2 linked regions of the Homo sapiens genome follow. The protein of the gene in region 1 purifies or fractionates together with the protein of each later gene. This does not show direct contact. Each region holds a gene or a part of one and is shown on either strand. Other genes may lie near its edges.

Evidence for each region.
Region 2: the proteins of ARHGAP29 (region 1) and CAMK2G purify together in Homo sapiens (affinity purification with mass spectrometry; 2 studies listed by BioGRID and IntAct, with this or other methods). This does not show direct contact.

The regions. Positions count from the first base shown.
Region 1 is NC_000001.11:94,163,850-94,178,869, forward strand, and holds the end of ARHGAP29 (rho GTPase-activating protein 29), read right to left. Parts: intron 14,319-15,020; coding exon 14,003-14,318; intron 13,872-14,002; coding exon 13,763-13,871; intron 10,901-13,762; coding exon 10,020-10,900; 3' UTR 5,056-10,019; downstream 1-5,055. UniProt on the Homo sapiens protein: GTPase activator for the Rho-type GTPases by converting them to an inactive GDP-bound state. Has strong activity toward RHOA, and weaker activity toward RAC1 and CDC42. May act as a specific effector of RAP2A to regulate Rho.
Region 2 is NC_000010.11:73,839,813-73,854,832, reverse strand, and holds part of CAMK2G (calcium/calmodulin-dependent protein kinase type II subunit gamma), read left to right. Parts: intron 1-1,586; coding exon 1,587-1,641; intron 1,642-2,513; coding exon 2,514-2,579; intron 2,580-5,499; coding exon 5,500-5,572; intron 5,573-5,717; coding exon 5,718-5,820; intron 5,821-6,223; coding exon 6,224-6,307; intron 6,308-6,750; coding exon 6,751-6,845; intron 6,846-7,041; exon of another isoform or gene 7,042-7,485; coding exon 7,486-7,608; intron 7,609-12,291; coding exon 12,292-12,375; intron 12,376-12,621; coding exon 12,622-12,664; intron 12,665-15,020.

The sequences.
Region 1 (15,020 bases):
CCCTGCCACCATGGCCACTTTGTTCATGGGTCTGTTGGGCGATGAGAGGGGTGGCTGGGGAAAGAGACTGAGTGGTATCCACAGAATGGGTCATTCTATCCACTTGATTATTAAAATCTGCCGTTGCTGAGGTCACCCGTTGGTGAGCACTCACATGGGATACAAATATCTTCACGGTTTTTGGCCACTCAGAGAGGTCCATCCACATTCCTCTTCCTCAAATATGTCACCAATTTTCCAATCATGCTTCTTCCACTGATTCAAATGTTAATGTAGTGACTTGATGACCCATAGTCAAATATTCAGTTTCCACCAAAGCCCAGTAACAGGCCAAGAGTTGTCTCTCAAATGGAGAGCAGTTATCTTCAGAAGATGGCAGGGCCTTGCTCCAAAATCCTAGAGGCCTCTGCTGTGATTCACCTATGGCAGCCTGCCAAAGGCTCCAAGAAGCATCCCTATCTGCCACTGACACCTCAAGTACCAGTGGATCTGCTGGATCATATGGCCCAAGTGGGACAGCAGCTTCCACAGCAGCCTGGACCTGTTGCAGATCCTTCTTCTGTTCTGGAACCCACTAAAAACTGGCAGCCTTTCAGGTCACTCGATAAATGGGCCAGAGTAATACACCCAAATGAGGAATGTGTTGCCTCTAAAATCCAAATAGGCCCACTAGGCATTGTGCCTTTTTCTTGGTTGTAGGAGGGGCCAAATGCAGCAACTTATCCTTCACCTTAGAAGGAATATCTCAACAGGCCCCACACCACTGGACCCCTAGAAATTTTACTGAGGTAGAAGTTCCCCGAATTTTAGTCAGATTTATTTCCCATTCTCTGGCACATAAATGTCCTACCAATAAATCCAGTGTGTTTGCTACTTCTTGCCCACTGGATCCAATCAGCATAATGTCATCAATGTAATGGGCCAGTGTGATATCTTGCGGAAGTGAAAAGAAATCTAGGTCTCTGTGAATAAGATTATGACACATAGCCGGAGAGTTGATATACCTCTGAGGAAAGACAGTAAAGGTATATTGCCAGCCTTGCCAGCTGAAGGCAAATTGCTTCTGGTGGGCCTTATGGACAGGAATGGAGAAAAAGGCATTTGCCAAGTCAATGGCTGCATACCAGGTACCAGGAGATGTGTTAATTTCCTCAAGCAATCAAACCACATCTGCTATAGCAACTGCAATTGAAGTCACCACTTCGTTAAGCTTACAATAATCCACTGTCATTCTCCAAGATCCATCTGTCTTCTGCACAGGCCAAATGAGAAAGTTGAACAGGGGTTTGGTGGGAATCACCACCCCTACATCTTTCAAGTTCTTGATGGCAGCACTAATCTCTGCAATCCTTCCAGGGATGCAATATTGTTTTTGATTTACTACTTTTCTAGGTAGAGGCGGCTGTAATGGCTTACATTTGGCCTTTCCCACCATAATATCCCTCATCCTACCAGTCAGGGAGCCAACACGGGGGTTCTGCCAGCTGCTAAATGTCTATGCCAATTGTGCATTCTGGCACTGGGGAAATGACCACAGGATGAGTCTGGGGACCCACTGGACCCACTGTAAGTCGGACCTGAGCTAAAATTCCACCTGATCTCCATAAGCCCCTACTTTAACTGGAGGACCACATGACGTTTTTGGGTCCCCTGGAATCAATGTCAGCTCAGAGCCAGTGTCCAGTAGTCCCCGAAATGTCTGATCCTTTCCTTTTCCCCAATGCACTGTTACCCTGGTAAAAGGCCAGAGATCTCTTTGGGGAAGGATGGGAGAAAGATTCACTGCATAAATTGTCAGTAATGTGGTGTCCTTCCTCAAGGGGTTCTGGCTTCCCCTTCATTCAAGGGGTTCTGGGTCTGTGAGCTGGCTCAAGTCTGGAAATTGATTGAGTGGCCATGATTCTCTGTTTTTATAATTCAAATTAGTCTTTTGTCCATTCAACCTAGAAATTTCCTGCTTGTATAAATTAAGTAGGAATGCAGTAGGCCTCCTATCCATTTCATTTCTAGGAACACCATGATTAATTAGCCAAGGCCAGAGCTCTAGACACATCAGACTATTCTGATTGTCGCTTTGCCTCTGCTATCCGTTATGGTAACTACGCCCACCTTGCCTTTGATGGTTGAGTGTCACCACTTGGCCCCCGCTACCTCGGGATCCAATTATTCCCATTGTATTTAAATTTTGTAGTTGAGTGACTGCAGTTCCCATCATTAGATCTGACACACAGAGAAGAGCAATTACAGCAATTACAGGGCTCTTCAAAGATGCAGGTGCTGCCCTTACAAATCTATTCCACAACTCAGTGTCCCTAGTTTCATCAGGGGGATCTGGCAGTCCCACATGTCCCCATTCCAAGTTTCAGGGTCCCATTCTTTTCCAGTAGATGCCCTCACTTTAACAGTAAACACCTGGTGCATGCATCTTTTGTTACAAGTCAGCCACTCACATGATAAGAGCTTGTGTTTGTTTTTCCACAATTTCAGCTCTTTCTGTTCAGGAGATAAGATTCTCACTCAGGGCAGTCTTAGCAGATTTGAGGCTATCTGTTTCTGAAGCTGGGAGACAGAATCCCTGAGTTCATAATTTTCTTTCATCACTTTGTCCACTGAACATAGGAACAACCAACCAGCTTCATTATGTTCCTTGGTTCTCCACATATGGTGAAAGGTATTATGCATAGAGTCACTAAACTTGACTCTCACGAGTAATGAATCAGGAGGGTCAAATGCATTTATTTTGCATAACTCTCTAAACAGTTCACACCAAGGACTATCAGTGTTCTCCATACTATTAGAAGTAGAGTCCTTAGCATTTTGGGTTCTAATCATATTAAGCAGCCAACTCCAGAAACCCCAAACCAATGAAAGAACTCCATCCTTAATATTCTGTTCCTCTAGAACCACTCCCAATACCAAAATCTGTATTAGTCAGGGTTCTCTAGAGGGACAGAATAGGACACGCACACACACACACACACACACACAAATATATGGAGAGTTTATTAAGTATGAACTTACACAAACACAAGGTCCCACAATAGGATGTCTGCAGGCTGAGGAGGAAGGAGAGCCAGTCCAAGTCCCAAAACTGAAGAACCTGGAGTCCAATTTTCAAGGGCAGGAAGCATCCAGCATGGGACAAAGATGTAGGCTGGGAGGCTAGGCCAGTCTATCTTTTTCATTTTTCTGCCTGCTTTATTTTCGCTGGCAGCTGATTAGATGGTGTCCACTCAGATTAAGGGTGGGTCTGCCTTTCCCCAGCCCACTGAGTCCAATGTTAACCTCCTTTGGCAACACCCTCACAGACACACCCAGGATCAATACTTTGTAACCTTCAATCTAATAAAGTTGACAGTATTAACCATCACACCTGCCTAAGTAAAGATTAAATGAGATGATCATCACAACGCATATTTGTTGCTGTTGTTGTTTAAAAAAGTGAATGGAGGGCCAGGTGTCGTGACTCACACCTGTAATCCCAGCACTTTGGGAGGCCGAGGCAGGCAGCCCACTCAAAGTGAGTAGTTCGAGACCAACCTGGCCAACATGGTGAAACCTTGTCTCTACTAAAAATACAAAAATTAGTGGGTGTGGTTGCGTTCACCTGTAATCCCAGGTACTCGGGAGGCTGAGGCAAGAGAATCGCTTGAACCGGGAAGGCAGAGGTTGCAGTGAGCCGAGATAGCGCAACTGCACTCCAGCCTGGGTGACACAGCAAGACTTCGTGTCAAGAACAAAAAACAAAAAACAAACAAAAAAAGTGAATGAAGGGAAAAATAGATTAAGTTTTCAATGTAACATTGTTCATAGTAGGAAGAAAACCTGAAAGCAACCTAAATGCCCATCAACAGTGGGATTAATACATTGTAGTATAAACCCAGTAAAATACTTTAGTTTTTTAAAAAATGAAAATAAACTATAGTTACAATTGTATAGGTAGCTTTTTTTGTTTTAAAGCCAAGGAAGGATTAACATAAAATTCAAGATAGTGGTTACACCTGCTGTGAGAAGTGACAGGCATGTGATCAGGAAGGGGCATCCTGGTGGTTCCTTAACATCCTGATGAGGGTGTTGGGGCAAATGGGAATTCGTTTTATAATCATTCTTTAAATGATACATATATATGTACACACTGCTGCATTTATGACTCAGTTTTAAAACAAAAAAATCATTTAAAACTCTCATTGAATCTTAATCATGAGACTTATGTATCTATACTTGGAGATGGAGAATATGTAGACCTTGGTTCACCGTCCTAGTCTCCTGTGTTGAATCACAACACATTCTACTCATTTTTTGGCAACTACTAGATGAACTCTTACAACTTTGATTAAAATAATTGATACAGAAGATTTATTTTGCTGGCAGTAGATCTCAAAAAGCAAATTTCTGGTATAAAATGATCTACAGAGAATTTGGCAGATGGCAACTACTGTGTGTCAGGTCTGTGTCTACAACTGTAAATAAGATCTTGCCATTCTTATAGTCAGGCTGTGTTATAGTCATCCCGATCTTTTTTTTTTTTTTTTTTTTTTGAGACAGAGTCTCACTCTGTCACCCAGGCTGGAGTGCAGTGGTGTGATCTCGGCTCACTGCAACCTCTGCCTCCCAAGTTCAAGCAATTCTCCTGCCTCAGCCTCCTGAATAGCTGGGATTACAGGCACACACTACTACGCCTGGCTAATTTTTGTATATTTAGTAGAGACGGGGTTTCACCATGTTGGTCAGGCTGGTCTTGAACTCCTGACCTCGTGATCCACCCGCCTTGACCTCCCAAAGTGCTGGGATTACAGGCATGAACCACTATGCCCGGCCTGATTTTTAAATTTCAGTGCTGTATTCACTTATCAATGAGCAATGCCTCATTGGTAACGGTCACTATTCATCTCATTTCCAGTACTGTCAACACTATAAAAGGAAGACTTACAATATCCTGTAACGAATGGGCATGACTGCATCCAGAAATCTGAGACAGGTTTTCATGTCATGTACAGCTTTTTGTTAATTGTTTAAAGCTGAAGATGAACTCAAATAAAACTTGTAACTCAGAAGCATAGCCAATTAGTCGTTTAATCTATTTTCTGAACTGCATGCTTATTTTATGGATGCAGAGTAGATTGGTTGAGTGTGAGGACACTTAAAAATAGCATGATACAGTTATTGTAGGAAGTATTAATATTTAAAAATTGTTACAGCCAAGACCAAAAAGTGAGAACCACAATTCAATATTTTCTATAAATTTCATAAATGTCTATGTTTAAACATTCCTGGTAAATATGTATAATCGTACACTTTTAAACTTTCTCTGATAAATTCAGTGAGTATTCAATAATTGCTCATTATCAAAAGGTTGTGAATTTGTCTCTCTTCCAGCCAGATGACAGGAGCCTAGGATTCCAATGGTGTGCTCAGGACTGACATCACTGGGGTCAAAGATTCAGCTGCCATGGTCCAGGCTCCAGGCTGGGGAGGATGTTAGGGATTGGTGTGGTCAGGACCAGCGCTGCTATGACTGCGGATTTATTTGGCATATTTGGGACTGGGTGTGATGAGACAGCAGCTGGCATGTCAAGAGGTTGAGGGAGGGAGGAAGAATGAACAAATTATTTAGGATTATGGGAGTCAGGTTTCTATGAGAGAAGGAAGTTACAAAGATGGAAAGGGAGACTAGATTAACCTCAAAGGATTGAATTGAAGGTGTCAATGTGAACTCAAAGTTTTCAATACGTATGTATATAAATAGATATAGAAGTAGGTGACTATTCTTGAATGTGTGTAGACACACGTTTTCCTTTGAGCTGTTCACCAATAAGACAGTGAGCCTTTCTCAGGTCTTCATTTCCATATACCATTTCCCATTTAAAGAAACCAGGGCTCCTTGGAAAAAAGGGCTAATTCTAGACTTGGGGTAGGGAGTAGGAAAAAGTGTAAGATGAGCTCGTAAAAAAAATAAGAGGGGAAAAAGCAATGAGGCATCTCTAAGGAACACAGAAGCCAGCTTGAAGAGACTCCCAAAAACCAAATCGGGGAAAATTTCAGCATGAAAATAAGTGACAATAATACACTGTCACTGAATAAAGCAGGCATTCATGAATCTATACTGATTTAAGTGAATGAAGGAATAGAGAAGGAAGAGCTCTTCCTTACAGTAGTAGGATGCCAACCAAGGCAGAAGCCACGGACTCACCATTTGACAACCAAAATAGTAATTGGTTCAGTCAAGAATTGTCAATAGACTAGCCCGTGACAATTCGATGAGAAACAATACATTTACAATCTTTAAGAATCTCCTCACAAATTACTTCCTAATTCTAATTTTACAATGGAGAAACCTGGTATATACTATCTGAACCAAGTGACCAAAATTAATACTATCAGGTATAAGACAAATTGACATTGTGTGCATCCTGGCATGACACATTTGAGTATAGAGCATCATTTCTGTAGTATTGGACAAAAATGTCTATCCTAAACCTTATGGGTCTTATCTAATGATAAACCAAAACTGAGGAACTTTCTACAAACTGGCCAATCCTCCTCAAGTGTCAAGGTCAAAGACAAGTCTGAAAAGATGTTCTGGACTGAATGAAACAAGAGATAGGGCAACTAAATGCACTATGTGGTCCTGGATTGGGATGCTGAAACACAGGAACATTACTGAGGCAATCAAAATCAGCAGATTGAATGTGGTCTATGGATTAGATATCATGATGTCAATGTCAATCTCCTAAGTTTGATGGTTGTACTATGGTTACGTAGGAATGCCCTTGTCTTAAGGAAACACACAGTAGATAGAGGTAATAATGCAAAAAATATTTTGGTTGGGATTACATTGAATCTACAAATGTAAATGAACATCTTTACACGACTGAGTCTTCTAATTCGTGTACATTATGGAGTACTACATTTATTTAAGATCTCCTTAAATGCTTCCTGACATGGTCTAACATTTTCTCCATCAAGATCTTGTACATCTTTTGTTAGACTTATTCTTAGGTAGAGTATTTTGTATTTTTTAATGATATTGAAGAGATCTTTCTAAAAACTTCCATTTCTGTTAGTTGCTGATATCTAGGAATACAACTGACTTACATACTGATTGTGAATGTAGCAAATTTGCTAACTCCTAGATGTTAACTGAATAGTCTACATATATAATCATATCAACACATCACCATAATTTCCTGCCTGTAGGAAAGAAAAACCCACAGAATTCCACTGACTATAAGTTATTTAACAATATACAATGGTTGTCATTTAGAGAGATGTTTCCAGTTGTATAAATACTGTAACACAACGATAGCTGGGAATAGTGTAGCCATAGTACCATCTTTAAATCACCCAAATAACTGAGGTACAATTCTATCTGCTTGTGAGTTCACTAGGCAACAAGTCTCAGGGATCATATAGTCTTTGTCTCTGTATCAAAACAAATACACTGCCTAAGGTACACTAAAAGTAATTTAACATACTGTACTCATAAATTCTAACTAAGTTCTCTGTAGGTAAAACATGGCTAGGGAAGTTATGATCAACCCTTCAGAAATGACTTCTTCTGAGTCGTTTGGACAATACGCATCATCTTGGACAATACGCCTCCCACAAGGCTTCCTGGTGTTCTGGCAGCACTAACAGGGCTCCTGCTGTTGCCCTTTCCTTTTGGTCACGTATCTTTCCATGTTGCAAAAAACAACTTCTGGATAAATGATTTCCACCACACTATTAGATAGCACAACACAGTGCACACTGTGGATCCTCTAGAAATAGCAACCTCTTCTCAAGAGATACTTGCCTCAGGGCCCCAGGAAACTAGAAAGCATCTAGAGGCTTAAGGCTCTACGCTGGACAAAGTGCCAGGGAGCCCTAAAGGCAGAAAGGACCCAAAAGTGAAATTCTCATTTTTAAGCTGTGAGGGAAAACAGAGAAATGAGTTTATTACATGATATAACCTTTGGGTGGGCTCCATATATTAAAAGAGAACTGAAGAAGTTTAAAAGTACATTTTCTAAGTTTTAGTATAGGATGATGATAATGTTCTGGAGATGAATAGGTGCTCATGGTTGCAAAACAATGTGAATATACTTAATGCCACTGAACTATATGCTTAAAAATGGTTCAAACAATATACTTAAAAATGGTAAATGTTATGTGTATTTTACCACAATAAAAATTTTTTAAAGTTGCATTTTCTATTGTTAAAAACTACCAGATATTATTTAGTAATCACAGTCATTAAGAGCACTAACCATCAAAATCTGACAGCCCTATGTTTGAGATTTGACTCCACCTGTTACACCTGTGGAACACTGAAGCAAGTCATTTAACTAAGCCTTAGTTTCCTTATCTGTAACACAGAAATAATAACATGCTTACCCACCCATTATAGGTTGCTGTGAACTTGAAATAAAATAATCTATGTAGCACCTTGGCAAAGTTCCTGGCACACAGAGAAGGCTCAATACACATGGGCTCTAATTTTCTTTTTAGGTATTCATAGCAATATGATTATTTTATATTTTGTACAATGAGGACTAAAAACAAGCCTTCAGAAAAAAAAGGGCTGGTTATTGCTCCCTAGACCTTTACATCACATAGAACTATAAAACAGGTTTCCATAAAATTCATTCCACATTGTAGTCAACGGATGTATGATCCTAGGTGTTGACTTCTAAGCCAATGGTTAATAACCTTAAACTCTCATACTGTAATAGGCAACAACTGAAAAGAAGCCACGGGAACATGAAATAATTTAACAAGTTGATATATATATATATATATATTATCAAGTATAACACAGTCATACAAAAACATTTAGTAGAAATATAATTCACACATAAAAACAGTCTACTTATTTTTTGTCCCTTTTATATCCTATTTTAGGCAAAATGATAAAACCCAGAAAATAACAGGAATGTACTAGTCCTAAAAACTGGACCTTTTATAAATGAAACAGATCCGATCACCTATACCTTCTCTCAAATTCCAAATAATGAGGCTTACTGACCTGTACTCTCAGAATCAACTTAAATAAATTTTAGCTTGATTTGGATGAAATATGTACTTTCAGTTGTTGACAATCCAGGTAGAACAAGTACATAAAATGATTCCTAAGTCAAAACATTTCATACAAAAGGAATGGTTTTAACCCAGACAAATCAAGAGGAAATGCACTGAATTCAAAAACTTCTGAAACAGGCATTTTTTGGACCATTTATAAAATACTAAAAAGTTCAGAACTGCTGAAAAACAAAAGTTTATATAAAATAAAGCCAAGGGGTGAAAAACTATCAAATGTATTAAAACCATCTAAAGCCAAATATAATATAACTGAATATATAATTTAGAAACAGGTTTAAGTGCATTTTCTTTGTACAACTGACTATCACATGTAAAAACTGGCAATTAATTAAAATGCAATTAAATACAGATTTGCAAGCCTTCTGGCCATTATGTAAACATTTAAAAATTAACTGAATTGCCAATTGAAAAATAAGAGCTTACATACGTATCTTAAAAAAGCACAAATGGTGAAAGATGCACTATAAAATTGTGTGACAAAACATATGCATACCAACAAAGATCTTTTTAGGCACTTGCATTCAGAAACATTCCTTTTATAAATAAGCACTTATAACAGTTCCACTCCAAAAAATAAACCTGATTTTCCCAAATTGCACCTATTAGTTGAGACTATATCATATATTAGGGATGCATTCAAATGGACCATTTGGTGGGGAAAGTCAACTGAACTTTAAAAAATACGAATCCACCTATCTTATTCACAACTTTAAAAATACAGAATTTAAAGATAATTCCAGTGAGGCACAAATGTGACCCTATCAAAACATTCTACCATTCAGTATTACCAACAGAGGATAAATACAACAACAAAAGGCAAAACCCATGATTTGGCAGTCCTATACAAAAGAGGCCCTGTCAAAACATTCTTTCACAAAACAAGCACAATACCACAAAATAACACAACAACAACAAAAAAACCCTGAAATTTGACATCCCTACACAAATTGTGGAATTTCACCTTCGAGGTCTTCAAACTGTTGCATTCGTTTTAGCCTTGGTCTCTGACACATTGGATTCACATCAGGCAAGCCAAGCTCCTCAGAGTCTTCTTTAGGTTGACCAGTTGCTTGCCCAGGACAAGCTGATGCTTTGTCTGGGTCTGGCATTGACTTCACCACGAGACCGTGGGGATCGTGATCTGTGCCAGGAGGCACTGCTGCTGAGGGTGAAGCTGGCTTCTCCTCATTCCCCCTGATACTGATGATGGGAGCATGTGGTTTATAAAATGTTGTCCAATGTTGAGGCTGCAGTGTTCTGGGTGCTCTGACAGGAGCGAGAGGGTAGGAATCTGAAGACCGTCTCTCAGATGCCTCTCTCACTGACCTGACTGGCTCTGCATATGGCTTACTGGGTTGAGTGGCATTGATAGAATGGTCCCCACTAATCTGGAGGCTTGTTGTCACTCCTTTTTCCTGGAGTGCACTGGGCATGATCATTGTAGTCTTGGCAGTTAGGCTGTTTTGTTCATACTGTTTGTCCTGAATTTTCTGTAGAGTTTGCTGGTCAAAGCCATTAAATTTGGAACAAACAGTAGTAGCAGCGTCTTTTCTATTAACTCCTTCAAAGGCAGGATTCTTGCAAAACTTGTCTAAATTTACATTTCCCATATTTCTGCCATTTCTCTCATTAGGAGGACTTGCAAGAAGTAGTCTATCTACAGGCAAACTTACAGGTCTAATCTTGGTCCTTGGAGTATGCCTCTCCACATTGTTTGTTGACCTATCAGATTTCAGAGAAAGTGGCTTAGGGGTTTTACCATCTTCTATCTTTTGGGATGCTGATTCAGCCTCTTGGTCTAGAAGCAACTGTGCTTTGTCTGAAAATGAAAGAAATCTATTTAAGTTTGTGGCACATGGTTAATAAGAGAGTTTGAATGAGTTAGAGATGAACACTCTATCAAGACAATATGAGTCTTACATATTTTTTCCAAAATAATATTCTCAGTTACCTATGTGGAGGAGTTAAACATTTGCACAGTATTAAAGGTGTATATTGAATTTAAAAGTTCAAATTTTTTACTCATTTAAATCAACATGAACAGCTACAAAACACAAAAAAAACACTTGCTGAGTAACTTCTTTTTAAGTGCTGTGCATGAACAAGTACTTTCTGGGTCAAAAGACTATCACAATTTCAATAGGCAGACATTGGAAAATTAACCTCAGAAAAGTGACACTAATTTACACACCAACCAGATGTAAGTGTGCCCTGAATCCCAAGGATTTTGCCAACTCACTCAATCTGCTTTTCAGTTACACTCAACCCAGTGAGAGCATATGATATTAGATGCCTTAGATGCTCTCCATATCTGATCAACTAATAAAGCATAAAATCCATTCTGTCAAATGAAGGCTGAATGCTTTTAAGTTAAAAAGTGCCATTTTCCCCACCTGCTCCCGGATTTTCTTTCTATAGTCCGAACCCACAGTCCATGTTTTCTCACTTAGAAGCCTCAGTTCCTGCATCTATCCTAAAAAATTCCAATTCCAGGAATGTTCCAGCCCTCCATTCTCCTGCTTTTCTGTTCACTGCTGAAACACATCCACCAACTCTGTGCCTTGACGCCATCCTGACTTTAAGCTACAGTCGGCCCCAAGCACAGCATGCAATCCTTTCTCTGCCACCCAGTCCTTCACCCACATCTCTTAGGCAGTGGTTTGCAGACAGGTGCCCACCAGAGTCACTTTTTGGTCATCGTCTCATCTGAACTTCTTCCACACCTGGGACTGCTGGCCTCTCTTCCCTGGGTTCCAAGGCTCTTTTATTGTTTTGTTTTGTTTTTGTTTTTTGAGACAGAGTCTCACTCTGTCACCCAGGCTGGAGTGCAGTGGCATTATCTTGGCTCACTGCAACCTCTGCCTCCTGGGTTCAGGTGATTCTCTTGCCTCACCCTCCTGAGTAGCTGAGATTACAGGTGCCTGCTACCATGCCCAGATAATTTTTGTATTTTTAATAGAGACAGGGTTTCACCATGTTGGCCAGGCTGGTCCTGAACTCCTGGCTTCAAGATCCGCACACCTCAGACTCCCAAAGTGCCAGGATTACAGGTGTGAGCCACCACACCTGGCCCAAGGCTCTTTTGATTTGCTTTCCCAGGTCCTCCACACATTTATAGAGCATTCTAAGGGACCTGGTTCCTTGCAATTGGACTCTAGGCACCAACATATATTCTTAAATTTCTGAGGGAAAAACTTAGAGCATAATGGAGAAGAGCACAGACTCTGAAGCACAGTTGCCTGGGTCCTGGCTCAGCCCTGCCTGCCACTTCTGCACTGGGCTAGGCAATATCACTGTCCTATGTGTCTTCATCTGCGAAATAAGACTCCTATGTGTATCTATGTTGCTGTGTGATCTAAATGATCTACTAGGAAAAGTGCTTAAAATTATCTTGTATGTAATAAACACTGGAAAGTGACATTTATTATTATTACTGTTCCTAAGAGCTTCATGGGATAGCCACAAAGGTTAGGTTTAGTAATCAGAACTGGGTTCAAATGTATTAAGAGAACAACCTTTGGCATTACTTAGTCTCTTTCAGACGGTTAGTTATGGGTTGAATGAGGATAATGCTATTTACTTTATAGCACAGAACTATTATGAAGATCAAATAGAATCAAACAAATAAGCACAGTGCTTAGCACAGAACAGGCAGGTACCTGGTGAATGTTAGTTCCATTCCTTTTTTTTTTCTTTGAGATGGAGTTTCTCTTGTCACCCTGGCTGGAGTGCAATGGCACGTTCTCGCCTCACTGCAACCTCTGCTTCTCGGGTTCAAGTGATTCTCCTGCCTTAGCCTCCCGAGTAGCTGGGATTACAGGCGCCCACCACCACACCTGGCTAATTTTTTGTACTTTTAGTAGGCGGGGTTTCACCATGTTGGCCAAGCTGGTCTCAAACTCCTGACCTCAGGTGATCTGCCCGCCTTGGCCTCTCAAAGTGCTGGGATTACAGGCGTGAGCCACCATGCCCGGCCCTCCTTTCCTTTTTAGACCCTATGATCACTGATACTTGATTACACATTAAATTTAACATATATGGCTGCAATGTAAAAAACTGGAATTTAGCTATAACAATGTAGAAATGACAATACAAATGGAAGCTTTTCCACCAGCTTAACAACTAGCAATGACAGCAACTAATATTATAAAGAGAAAATAAGTGAATAAAATGATCGCAGTCAAGGAAAGAAAAAAGACATACACATCTCTGTGTTTAATAGGTTAAATGTAGGCCACAGGTAAAAAGCATGTCAAAAAAAAAGTAGGACTCTAAAGTTTTTGAATTTCAGGAGTCTAGTTGACTCTGTATGAGCAGTTAGCTCAATGCACTGAACTACGGAACTGGAAGATACTAACGAATATCACATTGCTCAACACATTTCTACCTTGATTTTAGCTGATGGCAAAACTCAAAAACAAAAACAAAATTCAGAAGGAACACAAAAAACATTATAAACTCCAAGATGTCTTATTATAAGAAAGACTTTTATGAAGAATGACATTCATTTAAATGCAAGATACACTAAAAGGCAACTTTCTCAATGGCTAGCCAAGATTTGTTAACTAATAAAGCTTCATTCTCTGGCTTCCCTCATTGCCCCTCACCTTGGTTTTAATCACGGTTCTACTGGTAAAATTTTAAGCCAGCAAACATATTTTTTTTTTACATGGCTACTCACCACTGAGACATGCATCACATTTTCCTAACGCATTTTGCTTGCGTTCTGATTCCTCAAATGATGTAGCTCGTTCAAAAATTTTGCTTTCACTCTCTGAAGTATGGATATCCTGTTGATGCAAGATAATTTTTAAAATGGAAGAAGTAAAACATAACCTCAAAATAAACAGTTCAAAGATCTTTAACTTATTAACATAAATATTACAAAGTTCTAATATAATTCTATAAAGGTCAAACTCACTTCCTTTGAAGAAAAAAATAGTGACTTCATGGAACGTTCAATGTCTCTTTCTTCTGGTGATAACAGAGGCTTTGGAAAACAGCCTTGATCAACAACACCTATGCTACACATAACATCTTGTGGTTGTAGGGACCCATCGAAGATCTTCTGTGAGTAAGTAATGAGAAACTCTACCAAGCGTGCTTGATTTGAATACTCTGCAAGGGAGGAGATGGTGATAGGAGCAGTTGTGGGCCTTGGCCTAATGAGACTTGGTCCAAATATCACCCCCAAGTTTTTGGAGTTCATCTTGTTTTCTTCTGCATGATCTACTACCCTGCAAAGTAGAACACATAAAGTTGTATGAGATTTTCCTATTAGAGTTCCTTGACTGTAGTTTACTATGGAATAGAGAGGGTGGAGGGAAAATGAGCTGCACAAAAATACTAGGGGGAAAAAGTCTAGGAAAAGGTTATATTTATTTGATTAAAATATTGACCACATGCCAAATAGAGTTTCACAGTTTCACAGTATTGGAATAAATTTCAAGTTAAGTAGAAGGAACTACTATAGTTTTACCAGCAGAAAGAAAAAATACCCCTAAAAACTGCTCCCATCTCAGTATATGGTATATCCTCCCAAGTCCTTATACTGGGAACTTAAACATCATTGTCAGGTGTCTCACTACCCATCTCCAAGTCTAGATGATTCTCCCTTCTGAAGATCTCAGTTCCAACACCATTCCCACTCCTCTGGCCTCACTTCAAGCTCTTACCACCTTTTATTTCTATGATTATTCAAGGAGATCTGAATTGTAATAAAGGCCTCCTCTCCAACTTAGTTTCCATATTGCTGCCAGAAATATCTAAAAGGCAAATCTGAGCCTGTCAAATTCCTAGCTCAAAATTCTTTAGTGGGTACTGAAGGAAGATGGTCAGCGCATGCAAGACTGCCAGGCATGCAAGACTTTATCAGGCCTCTACCTGGCTCAGTTTCTGCTACTGCTTGCTGTATTGCAGCCTAACCAATTCACTTATAT
Region 2 (15,020 bases), on another chromosome or scaffold:
AGGCTTCGGAGTCCTCAGTCATCAAGGGAGGAGAACAAGGGGGCTATAGTGGTGGTTCAGTGCCTCGGGACTGTGCCGGCTGGGTTGTATACTTTGCTTTCTGAATGATCTTGCTTCGTGGGGAGGGGACATAGGGAAGCACCTCAGCCCTGAGGAAACGTGTGACACTGGAAATGGAAGCAGCCAGGGCCCACCCAGGAAGAGACATGGCCATTTCTTTGTCTCCTAGCACTGAACTGGTTAGTTTGGTGTCAGGCCATTCCTGAAGTGCTCCATGAGGTGCACCTGTAACTGCCAAGGCTTGGAGCAAAGGTCAAACCGAGGGAGGCCTTTGGAACAGAAGTTCCCCATCAAGAGAGTTCACGTGAGGGGAGGGACAGGACAGTCAGCCAAAGCGGAGTCGTTTCTGCATTAGAATGATGCTCAGGGGTTGGCATTTAACCCAGAGGTGGCTTTGTGGGCAGAAACTTGAAGAGGAGACCTCAGAAGACTTCAGGTTGGTTTTTTACCCAAGAGCTTTGGAGGCGGGGAGCAGGGAGGGATTCCGCCTGCCAGCTTTTTCTCGCAGCTGGTGCATCGCCCGAGTCTTCTTCCAGTGGCACCCTCCCGGACCTGTCTGCGATGCTGCTTTAGGGACATTTGTAAGTGGTCTTTCTTTTGGATGCCAGGGCTTTGTTGCCTGAATATGGGGGCTGCCCCACATTTCTTAAGGGAAGCAGTGGTGTAGACCACAGTCTTTGGAGTCAGGTAGCACTGGATTCACATCTTGACCCACCACTTAGAAGCTCTTTGGCCTTTGTTAAGAGACTTTGTGTCCCTGAGCCTCTGGTGCCCTCATCTGTAGAATGGGAATAACATTCATCTCAGGTGGTCGAAAGGAATAATAAACTCCTCAAAGGCAGGCACTCTGTCTGTTCCTCCTGAATCCCGCTGCCTAGCGTGGGGTCCAGCACATAGTAGGTGCTTGATAAATGCTTGCAGAATCAGTAATGTATGCAAGAGCCTAGCACAAGGCCTGGCATAGTAAGCACTTAATAAGCTGTTATTGTTGTCATTGCCTGAATGTGTGCGTGGCCTTCCAGGCTCACCATCCATTATCCTGCACCACGTGCCTTCCTGCTGAGCTCTGCCTTTCCACCTTCTTCCCCACCCCTTAGTTCTGCTCCCATTTACTGCTCTGGAAGAGCTCTCTGGCTTTCCCATCTGGTCATTGTTGTCCCCTGCCGTCAACATTGCTAGGTGCTGCTCACGCTGCATCTCACCATCGTGCATCATATCCCAGGACCACCTTCTCGGAGACCAGCCCTCTGGGAAGGTTCCGGCTTTTCTCCATCTTGACTTCTTAGCCATGAAGCTTTTCTCTCTTGCCTGAGTCTGAGGTGGCAACCAGAGCGCCAGGCTCTGGCTCCCAGGCTGCATAGCCTTGCACTGGGGGGCACTGGGCACGTCGCCACTTCCCCCCACTGCTCCTTCTGGAGAGCCCTGTGAGCCCGACAGGATGGGGCAGGGGTGGGGCTGCTGAGGAGAAGCCTAGGATTTCCAAGTTTTCTCTCTGTTAATCTCTGTCCCCATCTCCTCTCTTGCAGTGCGCCTCCATGACAGTATTTCTGAAGAAGGGTTTCACTACCTCGTGTTTGACCTGTAAGTGCCACTTTCTGAGGGTGTGGGGGCCTTTCCCTCTAGCTGACTCAAAATGAAGGCTCAGGAAGAGGCCTAAACAGGCTCTCCAGCCTCCGCCCAGGGCCCCCTCCTTTGTCCGAGGGAAAGGATTTGACTGGGGCAGATTGCTGCCCCCACCAAGGGGGTCTCCATGTTCCCCCAGCGTCCCCCCAGGGCTCTGAACCCCAGGACAGCATTCCTCTCGCACTTCTGTTCAGCAGCACGCCTTGCACAGATGCCTTTGTCTTGTTTCTCAGTGTGCTGTCCTTAGTGAAGAAATAAAAGACAGCTCTTTGCATGACCTTAAAAATCCTGAGAAATCAGAGGTAGCTTTCATTAGTCGGAAACCAGGCTCCATTGGATTGGGTCTCTCCTCCACGTTGGTTGTGGTTTAATGTCTTAAAAGTGGCTCTTACCTCCTGGACACTCCTCTCCAGGATTCTCAGGGTTGGGTCTCTGTGTCATTGGTCTCATTACTCTTCAACTTCAGTAGTAGCTCTGTCCTTCCTGGGCAGCGATATTTTAGTGTTTATGTTGGTCTCAAAGCTGTGACTTTTGGGGTAGGTTGACTGTTTTCTCTTAGATCCCTGTATCTTCATCTCTGCCTGACTATTAGTGAATCTGTGCATTTTGGAAAAAGAAATGTCCGGAAGGAAGGGACGGCCCATGATACCTCAAGGAGAATCCGGGTGTCACTGAAGGATCGAGTGTGTTCTGAGCTCTCAGATGAAATGCATGGGGAGTTGGGATTTCTCTGAAAGCCATTCTACAGGGTGACCCTGTTTCTTCTTGGACATTGGGGTTGGACAAAGGACCCTTTCTGCCTCTGACCCTCTTCTTCCCGTTGGTTGCAGTGTTACCGGCGGGGAGCTGTTTGAAGACATTGTGGCCAGAGAGTACTACAGTGAAGCAGATGCCAGGTAGGATGAGGGCCCGAGAGTTCAAATGTAGCTCTGGAGTTTAGGACTGAAGGAAGTCTTGGCCACCTTCGGGGTCCAGCATTGTACCTGTTTGAATAGTCTTTGGGGAAGATCAGAATAGCTCTTGTCTGGAGAAAGATTCTGTTGAGCTGGGCTAGGGCTTGCATACTGTGGGTGATATTAGAAGTTAAAAATTCAGCACTTCCTAACCAGGCGCAGTGGCTCATGCCTGTAATCCCAGCACTTTGGGAGGCTGAGGCAGTTGGATCACCTGAGGTCAGAAGTTGGAGCCCAGCCTGGCCAACATAGTGAAACCCTGTCTCTACTAAAAATACAAAAAAATTAGCCGGGTGTGGTGGTGTGTGCCTGTAATCCCAGCTACTTAGGCGGCTGAGGCAGGAGAATCACTTAAACCTGTAAGCGAAGGTTGCAGTGAGCCAAGATCATGCCACTGCACTCCAGCCTGCGTAACAGAGCGAGACTATGTCCCCCTCCCCCCCCCCACAAAAAAAATCACTTCCAAATGAATGTTTTACAAAGCTTTTCCAAGTCTCCTTTACCCTGTGACCCCAGAAATACTTTTTTTTTGCACTACCATGTACTCGCCACCATGCCCAATGTCCCCCTCTGCCCTTTTCTTTCCTTTGACAAATTCTGGTGTGCTCAAGCCACTGTGCTGAGGCTCTGGCATGATCCAGAGGTGCAGAAGACATGGTTTCTGTCCTGAGGGAGTGGAGAGTTCTGGGCTGATAATCCAACCATAGAGCCCCGGGAGCTTTCAGCCTCTGTCACCTTGTCCCTAGACCACCATGACCAGCCTTGCCGTGGGGCTCCTCCAACTTGAGGACCGTTCCCCGGCCACATGCCTCAGCCTCTGCCCTCCCTGGAATCCCTGGTGCCTCCCTCACCCACGCTCTCAGGCGCCTGTTCAGCCTGCCTTTCCCGCCTTGGCTCTTCCCCCAGCCTTGCTTTTCTCGAGGGTGATGTCCCTACAACCTGGTTTTGATCATCCTGCCTGCAGCTTATCTGGCTTATGTGGCAGCTCTGGCTGCTTCTGGAGAGTGGGGGAGTGCAGCTTCCTCACGAATTTCTCAACCTTGAGAGGCCAATGTTTGCTGATCAACTTCAGATGCTTCAGCCTCGGGAAGAATTCTCAAGTGGGGAGATGAATTCCAGTGCCAGCAGGGGAGGACGAGGCTCTGGGACGGAGGAGGCAGTGATGGCTCAGGGAGCCTGCGGGGAGGAGGGAGAGCTATAGGGAGGGGGCCCTGAGGGGGGGTGACTGTACCAGTGGGCTTGGCCTGGCTCTGCTGGGACACTTCGCACTTTTGCCATTTTTGGCCAGAAGGCGCTCCCTGCTAGCCCGGCTCTGTTCTAATTATACATCTCTGTGGAGACTCGCCTCTATAGCTCAGTCTTAAAGTTTCTGTGGCCCACTCTTGGGCTGTGTCCTATGGGGAGGCCCGAGTTTCAGCCCCCAGGGACCCAGTACGACCCCTTGGTTCTTGTGGCATCCCCAGCATCAGATTTTAGGAATAGTAAGTCCAGGCCACCCAGCCCCATACACTGGGATGCTCTGCAGATGTGCTTAATATACCAGATAGTGCCTGATGACGGGGGTCTATATTCTAGGCCAAGTTCCTCAGCCTTGGTGCTACTAACGTTTTAGGCCAGGTACTTCCTTGTTGTGAGGCCTCTCCTGTGCATTGTGGCAGACATTTAGAAGCATCCTTGGCCTCTGCCCACCAAATGCTGGGAGCACCCCTCCTCCAGTTGTGACAACCAGAAATTTCTCTAGGCATTGCCAAATGTCCCCTGCGGTGGGGGGGGGCGGGCGGCAAATTCATTCCCAGTTGAAAACCACTGCTCTAGACTGCCCCCGCTCCCTGTCAGGAGTTTGATGACAGGGATGGCAGGATGGTTTGCTATGTGGACAGTCTGATTTACGTGTGTGACTGTGGCTGGGCGCAGTGGCTCACGCCTGTAATCCCAACACTGAGAGGCCAAGGTGGGTGGATCACTTGAGCTCAGGAGTTCAAGACCAGCCTGGGCAACATGGTGAGACCTTGTCTCCACAAAAAAATACAAAAATTAGCTGGGCACGGTGGCTCATGCTTGTGGTCCCAGCTACTGGGGAGGCTGAAGTGGGAGGATTGCTTGAGCCCAGGAGGTCAAGGCTGCGGTGAGCTGTGTTCACGACATTGCACTCTAACCCAGGCAACAGAGTGAGACCCTGTCTCAAAAATAAAATAATAAAATAACTTTGGGTTTTTTTCTCTACGCAAAATCATCAGAAGTGCTCCTTAAATGCCCTGTTTGGAAGCTCTTAAGTACATTGTTTCTTAAAGGTATCTTTGTACTTGTTTTAGCTGCCTTACTGGATGCCAGACCTCAGGGCAGCTATTGGGTCTTGTCCATCTTCATTATCCTAGGCACTCAATAAACATTTAGGGAAATGAATGAGTGCACCCACCGCCAAAGTAGCTTAGGTTGTTTAGTTGGACTCTCCTTCCTAAGTTGCCAGCACAAGCTTCTTCTCCAAGAACAAAGTTACTGTATGGAGAAAGAGAAAGAAGGAAGGGATTGGATGCTCTCTTCTTCCTCAGGATTCTGGGCTGTCTCCTGATCTCTTGGAAATGAGTTGGTTGTGTTAGACCTTTCCAGTCAAAAGGGGGTGAGAGGAACCCGTTCTAGCGGTGATCCTAGAAAAACCATTGCATCTGCCTGGGCCTCGGTTTCCTCTTTCTTTAAATAGGTTGAACAAGATGATGTGCAGAGTCTAAGGTTCCAGTGGCCGTTAAGTGATTCTCTGTGAATCCGTGGCCCCTTGTCACATGCCTTAGTCTGCAGCATGTGGTTGTGGATGTGGATGAGGTGGTTTAACCCTGCGCTAACATTTCTTTTCCTTCTGCTTTTTTAGCCACTGTATACATCAGATTCTGGAGAGTGTTAACCACATCCACCAGCATGACATCGTCCACAGGGACCTGAAGGTACTACCCAGGCTCCCCTCCGTGCCTCTGCTCATGAAGTGTTGGCGCCACCTGGTGCCAGATAGTGGTACTGCGTAGGCCCAAACTAGGCTTCCTCTGGGCTGCAGGGTGGGTGCTCACAAGGTTCTCTGTGTTTCTTCTGCAGCCTGAGAACCTGCTGCTGGCGAGTAAATGCAAGGGTGCCGCCGTCAAGCTGGCTGATTTTGGCCTAGCCATCGAAGTACAGGGAGAGCAGCAGGCTTGGTTTGGTAAGGGTGATCCTGTCTTCCCGGAATGCAGCCCCCGCCCTTCCTCCTCTTCCTGATCTGCCTTCCTCTATTAGAACTAGAAGCCAGACCCTTAATGGTCCTGGCCTCCGAGATCTCTCTTGGCCGTACGCGACTCAGTACAGTAAGTCTAGCTGTTGTCAGCACTGCTTTCTTGCTGCCTGTGGGAAGGAGCTGGAGTTCCTGGTAGGCATACGGCTTTGCCGTCTGGTTCAGATTCCAGGCGCTACAAGAAGCCCAGCCTGTCAGCTCTTGCTGCCCATGTGCTGAGAGTTTATGTAGCAAAAGCAGCAGGAATAAGATGGGACTTGGGGGAAATGGCTGGTGTGGATTTAACGAGAGAGAAAGTGGGTTCAGTATGCCTCTGCCCTCTCTTTTGCTACAGGTTTTGCTGGCACCCCAGGTTACTTGTCCCCTGAGGTCTTGAGGAAAGATCCCTATGGAAAACCTGTGGATATCTGGGCCTGCGGTAAGCCCATTCCACGCTCTCAGCTTTTCGCTGTTAAGGGCCCTCAACTTCCGATGATGGCAAGAAAGAGGCATCGCTATTCCTTGCAGGTCACACACGTGCCTGGTGTATGTGAAATTATGGTGTTTGCCCCTGGGATGGCTGTTCCCATCACACCCTCCTCCCTGCGTACTTCTGGGATGACATTGTATCCTTCTTGGAGAGGGATTTGCCCACGCCTTAGAGGATGGGTTGTGCCTAAAGAAATCCCTGGTGTGACTTGGTGACGTGAAGTGTGAGGCATAGCAGGAGGGGCTGGTAGCATAGCATTATCGGCTGGCATCCACTTCTGACTCTGGTATGGCCCCTGCCTTTCTAGGTGGCTCTGAGCCCTGCATGGTTTTTCTTGGTTCCTCAGGGAAGTAGGCGACTGACCCCCATGACCTGTGTGTTCTGTCTCGTAGGGGTCATCCTGTATATCCTCCTGGTGGGCTATCCTCCCTTCTGGGATGAGGATCAGCACAAGCTGTATCAGCAGATCAAGGCTGGAGCCTATGATGTAAGGACCAGAGAGCCGGGCAGCCAGGCCAGGAAGGGCAGATGTCCTTGCTCCTCGGGCTCTGTCCAAGGGAGCAGGCTTGTTTAGTGTGTCACGTGATACGGGGGTGTCAGGGGACTTTGAGGACCCAGGAATGGGCATCCAGGGCCCAATTCTTGCCACTCTATGTCCCAGGGAGCAACTTTCTTTTGCACAGCCTTCTTCATAACTAAAATTGAGGAGTCCACTGAAGTCCTTTGATCTTTACTTGCAAAGAATGGAGCGGCCTCATTGGTGTGCTGTGTAACACAGGGACAAAAGGCCTGGAGACTCCCTCCACTGCAGTGGCACCTTGGACACATTGCTGAGCCTCTGTTCCCTCCTAAGTATAGAGCTGGGCTTAAACCAGAGAATGTTGGAGTCCCCTTCCCGCTCTAATCTGATGTTCTGGCATTCTAAACATGACTGTTCTGTCTGTCTTTCCAAGTCTTTAAGTTGACACAGGTTCTGGAATAGCCGCAGGGCTTCTCCAACTCTGCCAGTCACAGCTTTAGGTACCACAGAGTATCCCAATTACAGGAGTTGAGTTGAAGACAGAACCAGTGTTGCAGGGTATGAAGCTCACCAATACCACATTCTTCTCCCTATTCCTGCTCCTTAGTTCCCATCACCAGAATGGGACACGGTAACTCCTGAAGCCAAGAACTTGATCAACCAGATGCTGACCATAAACCCAGCAAAGCGCATCACGGCTGACCAGGCTCTCAAGCACCCGTGGGTCTGTGTAAGTGTCTTTGCTAGTGGCCAAGGAGCTCAGGGGTGTCAGCCTTCTGTGTGCCCTCGGCACCACCCCCTCCTTCTTACCAGCAGAGATTCATTCTGGGCCCCAAGCAATAACTGAGCAGGCGGGCAGAGGACTGTTGAGGGCCAGGGTCAATAAATGTCACCAGGGAGACTCGGGAGGCTGATGGGGCTGGTGGGCCACTGCTCCTCTCTCCCCCACTCATGGCTGTCAGGCTGGGATTGGTTCTGTTCTTGGATGAGGGCTCAGGTTGACCCTTGTGGACTCCAGGTAGCCGGTGATAGAAAGCAGCTGGCAAAACCCAAAGTGAATTCCCAAGCTGGGGTTCATACTCAGATCTCAACTCCACTGGAGTGGTGACCAAGATCCAACAAATCAACAGAAGGGGTTTCTGAGTCATTAAAAGCATAAAAGCTGAGGCATAAAGCTTCTGCGCTAAAGTCCTAGGAGAGTCCTCTAGGCTATCAGTGTGGGTTGACGTACTCTGTTTTTATACACAATTCTTTCAAGCTGAAATATCAACTTTCAGACAAAGAAGAGGATTTGGTAGAGTTAGGCATCTTGACAACCACGAGGCATTATTTATCTGTCCATTCTGTGTTTATTAAATACCTCTTTGGTGCTGGTTACCGTCTGGGTGCTGGAGATACAAAGATGAATGAGGCATGGTCCCTGCCCCAAAAGATCATCTAGGGAGACAGGCACTCAAACAGGCAGTCATGTTACAATGTGACAAGTAGGTACAAGAATCTAATGAGAGTACAGGAGCTCCTACTGTTCCTGGTGGGTGGTGGGGTTACTGAAGGCTGCACGGAGGAGGTGACACCCCTGTGCTTGTTCTTGGCAAATAACGAGGTCCTCAGAACGTTAACCTGCAGACAGAGTTTAGCACAGTGAGAGGTTATGGGAAACTATGGTGAGTTGAAGGAATGTTGAGTTGTTTGGTTGTCGATGAGGCTGCAAATATCAGAATGCAAGAGAATGGGGCAAAAGATTCCCTGACATACAAGTTTCTGCCTCAGGAGTTTGGATTTTATTCTGAAAACATAGGGAATCATTTAAGGGTTTTAAAGAAGAATGAAATTTGCATTTAAGAACACTTTGGAAGTTGTGAGGAAATGAATTGCCAGGCATGGTGGCATGTGCCTGTAGTCTCAGCTGCTGGGGATGCTGAGGCAGGAGGATCATAAGCCCAGGAGTTTGAGGCTGCAGCGAGCTATGATTGCACCTGTGAATAGTCATTGTACTCCAGCCTGGGAAAGATGGTCAGACCCCACCTCTTTAAAAAAAAAAAAAAAAAAAGAAGGGAATTGAAAATTTTTAAAAGAAAAGGGCTGGAGACAGAGAGCTCAGGAAGCTTTTTTAATAGTTGGAATAGTCTAAGCAAGACCAGGTGAGGTCTCAGCAGAGGGTAAGGATGGGGGAATGTGCAGTGTGTTGAAATTCAAGAGATATTTGAGAGAACCTAAAGGATTTAATTCTCTCCAGTTGGATTTGGGGGGAGCAAAGAAGAGAGAGGCCAGGTTTCAAGTTGAGCGGAGAGTTGTACCCTCACTGACCCAGAAGAAAACCAGAGGAGGAGCTTGTTTGTGAGACAAGACGATGGTTTTCTCTTTTTTTTTTTTTTTTTGAGATGGAGTCTCGCTCTGTCGCCCAGGCTGGAGTGCAGTGGCGCGGTCTCACTGCAAGCTCTGCCTCCCGGGTTCATGCCATTCTCCTGCCTCAGCCTCCCGAGTAGCTGGGACTACAGGTGCCCGCCACCACGCCCGGCTAATTTTTTGTATTTTTAGTAGAGATGGGGTTTCACCGTGTTAGTCAGGATGGTTTCGATCTCCTGATCTCATGATCCACCCGCCTCGGCTTCCCAAAGTGCTGAGATTACAGGCATGAGCCACTGCGCCCGGCCAAGATGATGGTTTTCATTTTGTGCCTGCTGAGTCTGGCAACCTCCAGCCAGACACATTCAGTGGGTGGTTAGAAATATGGTCCTAGAGATTAGAAAAGAAGCTAAAAATTGGAAATCCACATTGTAGTCATTTCTGTGTAGTTGGTAGTGAGGCTGTAGAAATAGCCTCTTCCTATGCTGTAGATGGGCCTGTTCCTATGCTGGTTGAGTTCTTACGGTGAGCTTCTATTGGCTGTAGTAGAGAAGAGACGGCCACTACACACCAGCATTTAATGATAGGGAGAGTTAGGGGGCCCAGCAAAGAGCACTGAGAGTGAGACCTTCCAGAAGACCCAGAAGCTAAGAAACAGGGGGTCTCAGTAAGGGAGCGTCAGGAATCAGATGCAGAAGAGTCCCTGATTAAGTTGGGGAAGAATCCCCTGGCTCTGACCATTAGATGCCATTGTTTCATCATTTCACTGAGACAGTGGAGAGAAAGATGAAACCCTGTTTTCAGTGAGACGAAGAGGGAGTGAGGGTGAGGAGGGGCATGGGGAGCTAGGCATTGAGGTGGGAAATAAATGGTGATACTTAGATTAAGATGGGCCAGGGGAGCTTTTAATGTAAGGCTCACACCTGTAATCCCAGCACTTTGGGAGACCAAGGCAGGCGATCACTTGAGGCCACGAGTTCAAGACCAGCCTGGCCAACATAGTGAAACTCCATCTCTACTAAAAATACAAAAAATTAGCTGGGTATGTTGGTACACACCTATAATCCCAGCTACTTGGGAGGCTGAGGCATGAGAATCACTAGAACCCAGGAGGTGGAGGTTGCAGTGAGCCAAGATAATGACACTGCATTCCAGCCTGGGTGACAGAGGGAGACTCTGCCTCTAAAGAAGAAAAAATTTCTTTTTAAAGATTATATTGGTCAGGAGCGGTGGCTCACACCTGTAGTCCCAGCACTTTGGGAGACCAGGGTAGGTAGATCACTTGAGCCCGGAAGTTTGAGACCAGCCTGGGCAACATGGCAAAACCCCATCTCTACAAAAAAAAAAACTTTAAAAATTAGCTGGTTGTGGTAACGTGCCTTAGCTACTTGGGAGGCTGAGATGAGAGGATCACCTGAGCCTAGAGAGGTGGAGGTTGCAGTAAGCCATTATTGTGCTACTGCACTCCAGCCTGGGCAACAGAGTGAGATGCTGTTTCAAAAAAAAAAAAAAATTTTTTTGTTTAAGGAGAGGCTTAACTATAATCTATAGAGAAGAATCTAGTCCAGAGGAAAGAGTTGAAGATCCTTGCTAATTGAGGAAGCAAAGGTTTGGACAGCAGAAAAAGAGAGGGGGCTCCTGAGCCAAGGGCAGGGGGTCCATCCCGGGGATGACCATGATCCCCCTGAGACTTCTATTAGTGTGGAGGCAGGTGAAGATCGGCTTGTGAGTGGAAGTCTGAGCTGAAAGGGGTTCTTGCTGATGACCTCTCATTTTGCTTTTGGAGAAATTTACACCGAGGAGGAGGTAAAATGAGAGACTTGGGGAAGGTAGAGAAGGTGGGGAGAGTTGCCTCCGGACCTGGAAAGAGTGGGCCAAGGGTGAGGGAAAGGATGCGAGGAGGCCCCGTAGTGTTGGTGGGCACCTGGCTGCAGGTGCCAGGATTTGTTTTTCTGACAGGCTGGTGAAGACAGCAACAGCAAGGGGAGAGGGCAAGCAACCTGAAACAGGCACCCAAGAATGGGGGAAATATTCTGTTCTGGGGTCATTTTTGCAGGCCCTACCCTCTGCAGTCCCGTGTGTCTCGAGCCCCTGAGGACATCACTATATTCTGAAATTACATAATGATGCTGGTATTGACAGCTGAGTCATTGAGGAAGTGTAGACTGTGTCCCATGGACTCTGTTTAAGGAGGCCAGGAAGTTAGCAGTAAATACATTGAAGACAAATTTCCATCCAAAAAAGGCGGGGCACAGTGGCTCACACCTGTTATCCCAGGACTCTGGGAGGCCGAAGTGAGCAGATCACTTGAGGTCAGGAGTTCGAGACCACCAGCCTGGCCAACATGGCCAACCCTGTCTCTACTAAAAATACAAAAATTAGCTGGGTGTGGTGGGATGTGCCTGTAGTCCCAGCTACTCGGGAGGCCAAGACAGGAGAACCTGAGAGGCGGAGGCTACGGTGAGCCGAGATTGCACCACTGCACTCCAGCCTGACTGACAAAGCGAGACTCCATTGCAAAAAAAAAAAAAAATTACATCCAGAATGATGAAAAGAATTGATGCTTCAAGGTGACGATCCTTAGCTTCTGGGATCATGGCTTCATTCAGGACCTTGCTGGGGGTGTGTGGAGAGGGGCTCTTGGAAGGAAGGAATGTCCTCTGTAGAGAGCAGGAACCCTGCCGTTCTCTCGCTGCTGAGCATCTGGAACGCAGTAGGTGCTCAGTAAACAGCTGCCTAAGGAGTGACTGAATGAGGATCACAGCCCCCAGGGTACTCTCCTGTTCGGTAGCCTCTGTTTCCCAAGGAAGAATAGGACGGTCTCTCAGCAGCCCGTCTAGCATCCGTTATGGTGTTCTCACGTTCATGTTGTCCTTATGTAACCTTGAGTTTCGGGTAGTGCTTTTATTCTAAAAGCGTTTTCACATCTGTGACCTCATTTCATCTTCAGAGCAACTCTGGGGTGGCTGAGTGCATGACCCTGTCCTGGGCATGGTATCGGTGCCAGGACTGTGGGAGGCGCAGAGGATCTGGGCTGGGGCTCATAGCCTGTCTGTTTGGTTTCTAGCAACGATCCACGGTGGCATCCATGATGCATCGTCAGGAGACTGTGGAGTGTTTGCGCAAGTTCAATGCCCGGAGAAAACTGAAGGTGAGTGTCGTTTCTAGGCTGCCAGCCTCCTTGACATCATGCCTTGCACCAGTGTGGCTCCTGCCCCATTTCAGAAGGAAGCTCCCCTCCTGGCTGGAGCTGGGCTCTGAAGGTTGTACATGTCACAGGGGAGGGGGCCCAGAGGCCTGATGTCTTCAGGCTCTAGCCAGGACCTGCCTTTGCCTGAGACCAGCCTGCCCTTTTCTAGGGTCTCAGTGAATTCACAGGACCTTCCTCTTTCCCCAGGGTGCCATCCTCACGACCATGCTTGTCTCCAGGAACTTCTCAGGTATGTTTTCCCAGCTGTGTACTTTGATTATGCCGAGGTGAGTGGATCAGGAATGGGCTGTTGCCATCCCGGGCACCGCTGGGTTTCCTCGGCGTCCTGGGCCACACCTTGACCAGGGCGAGTGAGGATCCTGTTTTGAGGGGCTGCTGCTGCTGCTGAGTCCTGCTCCTGAGATTCAGGGGGCTGGACTCACATTTGTGAATTGTTTCCTAGAACTTCCCAAGGAGTAGCCTGCCCAACTTGCTATGTACCTTGTTTCTCTGGATTCTTATTTAACTCTCTGAAGACTCTCAGCACTTTACAGATTTTAGCCATTCTAGGATCTTGGAGGATGTGCTGGGGGAAGAAAAGAGAGATGAGGTACAGTGAGTCTTCTCAATTGCCAAATTGCCACCATTCATTTGCCTGCTGGGACGATCTCTTACTTCATTTTGTCCAAGTGGAGATGACTAATAGAAATTATTCCAGATGTTTAAACCTTTTGTGGCGACTTGTGCTTAAAATAGTCCCTGAGATACTAGCTATAACAGTGAAGAAATAAAGACCAGCAGGAGAGAGGGAAAGGAACTTGCTTAAATTTGCATAAAGAATTGGGAGAGGTGGGACCAATAATTTGTAAATCATACTTGACATTTATTTTTAAGATGCAAGACACTCCACTCCCCTCTTGCCCCCACCCTCACCCCAACCCCTATTATTGTTTGCCTTCAATTGGGAAGCACAGTGGCTTTTTTGTGAGGAAAAGATTAATGTCGAGACTGAAGACAGAGAGGGCTCTGCCCAGCTTGCCATCTCCCCCGGTCCTCCCTCCCTCTAACCCCTTGCCTCACTGTTTTGGTTCAAGACCCCCCCTTCTCCTTCCCATAATAAGACTCCCTCCCTTGCTTCCCCTCTGCACCACCATGGAAAGGGGGTTGTGTGGGAGCCTAAGCCACCACTCAGTGGGAGCCACTTCTGAATACCCGTCCTGCTGGGCTCGCCTGCGCTGGCTCCAGGTAACGCCAGGGCCTTGGCTGTGAGGATGCTGCAGGCAGGGAGCCTAGGGCTTCGTGGTGTAGCCTGAGAGCCATGGAGCTCCGGAAGGCCAGGGCTGGATAGTGAGCCCGGGGCTGGTGGTGCCCTGCCCTAGGCCTTCTCCTTTGACCCTGGTTTGGGGCTTGATCTTGTGTCATGGGTACCCACGACGGGCATACTGTGGTGTGGCTCCACCTCTCGCAGATGGGAACAGGGAAGCGTGGCTGGCTGCCTCCGGTGGAGTTGCAACTGTAGTCCCACACTTGCTTCTTGTGCTTTAATGACGCAGCTTCTACTTTTTGGGTCTACGAGCCTTTCCAGAGGACATTGAAGGGCGTTTCGGTGTTGCCCCTAGAGCGAAGCTCTGTCCTCTCTCCCCTCTGAGTTGAAGAAATGTGAAGACAGTCTGCTGCTTCTCTTTTAGCCCAGCCAGTCAATAGCAAGGGCCCTGTCTTGCAGCCCCGGGCCTCCACATCAGCCTCCCCCTCCATTTCAGGAAACTGGCATCCTGGTTTCAGGAAATCGGGTGTTAGGACAAAGCATTTTATTCATCCCTGTAGAGCCTCCTGTTCTTATTGGCCAGACCTAGACTGGCCTTTGAGCTCACTTTGCCTTGGGTCAGAGGAGACAAACAATGTTGCAAGCATTCCAGGATGGCCTCTTCTGCCCTGACTCTGGGACAGGTGAGGACAGAGTCTGTCCGGAAGCTTCTGCAGAAAGAGGTGTCTATGGATGCAATCAAGAAGGAAGGGCACCTGTGTGTTTCTCTAGGGCTGTTTTTTGAGTTGACCTCCAATAGGAGATGTGGCTTATCCTGGACTCTAGCAGTTTGGCTAACAGCGAATCGGGGCCTCCAGAGTGTATTGCTTCAGCAGCCTTTGTTTTCTTTCTCAGGGTTTATTTCTTGGGCACCTTTCACCTCAGCACACTGTGACACACAGACTGAGAATGCTGCCTCTCTCGGCTACCTCCCTTAAGACAGGGACCTGTGTCTCTGAGGGGTTGGGGGGCATGGAGCTGGGGCCCACCAGTAAACTTAGCTGCACAAGGGCCACAGACCCTCCCTGGGACCCCCACGCCAGTCCCTCTAGTGTGTGGGATGTAGAGAGGGGAGAGGGCTGCTCTGCGCCCCCGGCACTCTCATCGTGGGCTCATTTAGCTTCTAGGGAGGGAAGGACTAGAAGGGAGGGCGTTTCATCACAGCCTTAAGCTAGGGCCGGGCTACCTCAGAAGGGGCACCTGCCTCTCACCGGCTCAGGCATTTCGCTGTGGACCCTCCTCCGGAGGGGGTCATGAGACAGGCACTGCAGCCCTCTCCATCTGGTGGGGACGCAGTGTTCCC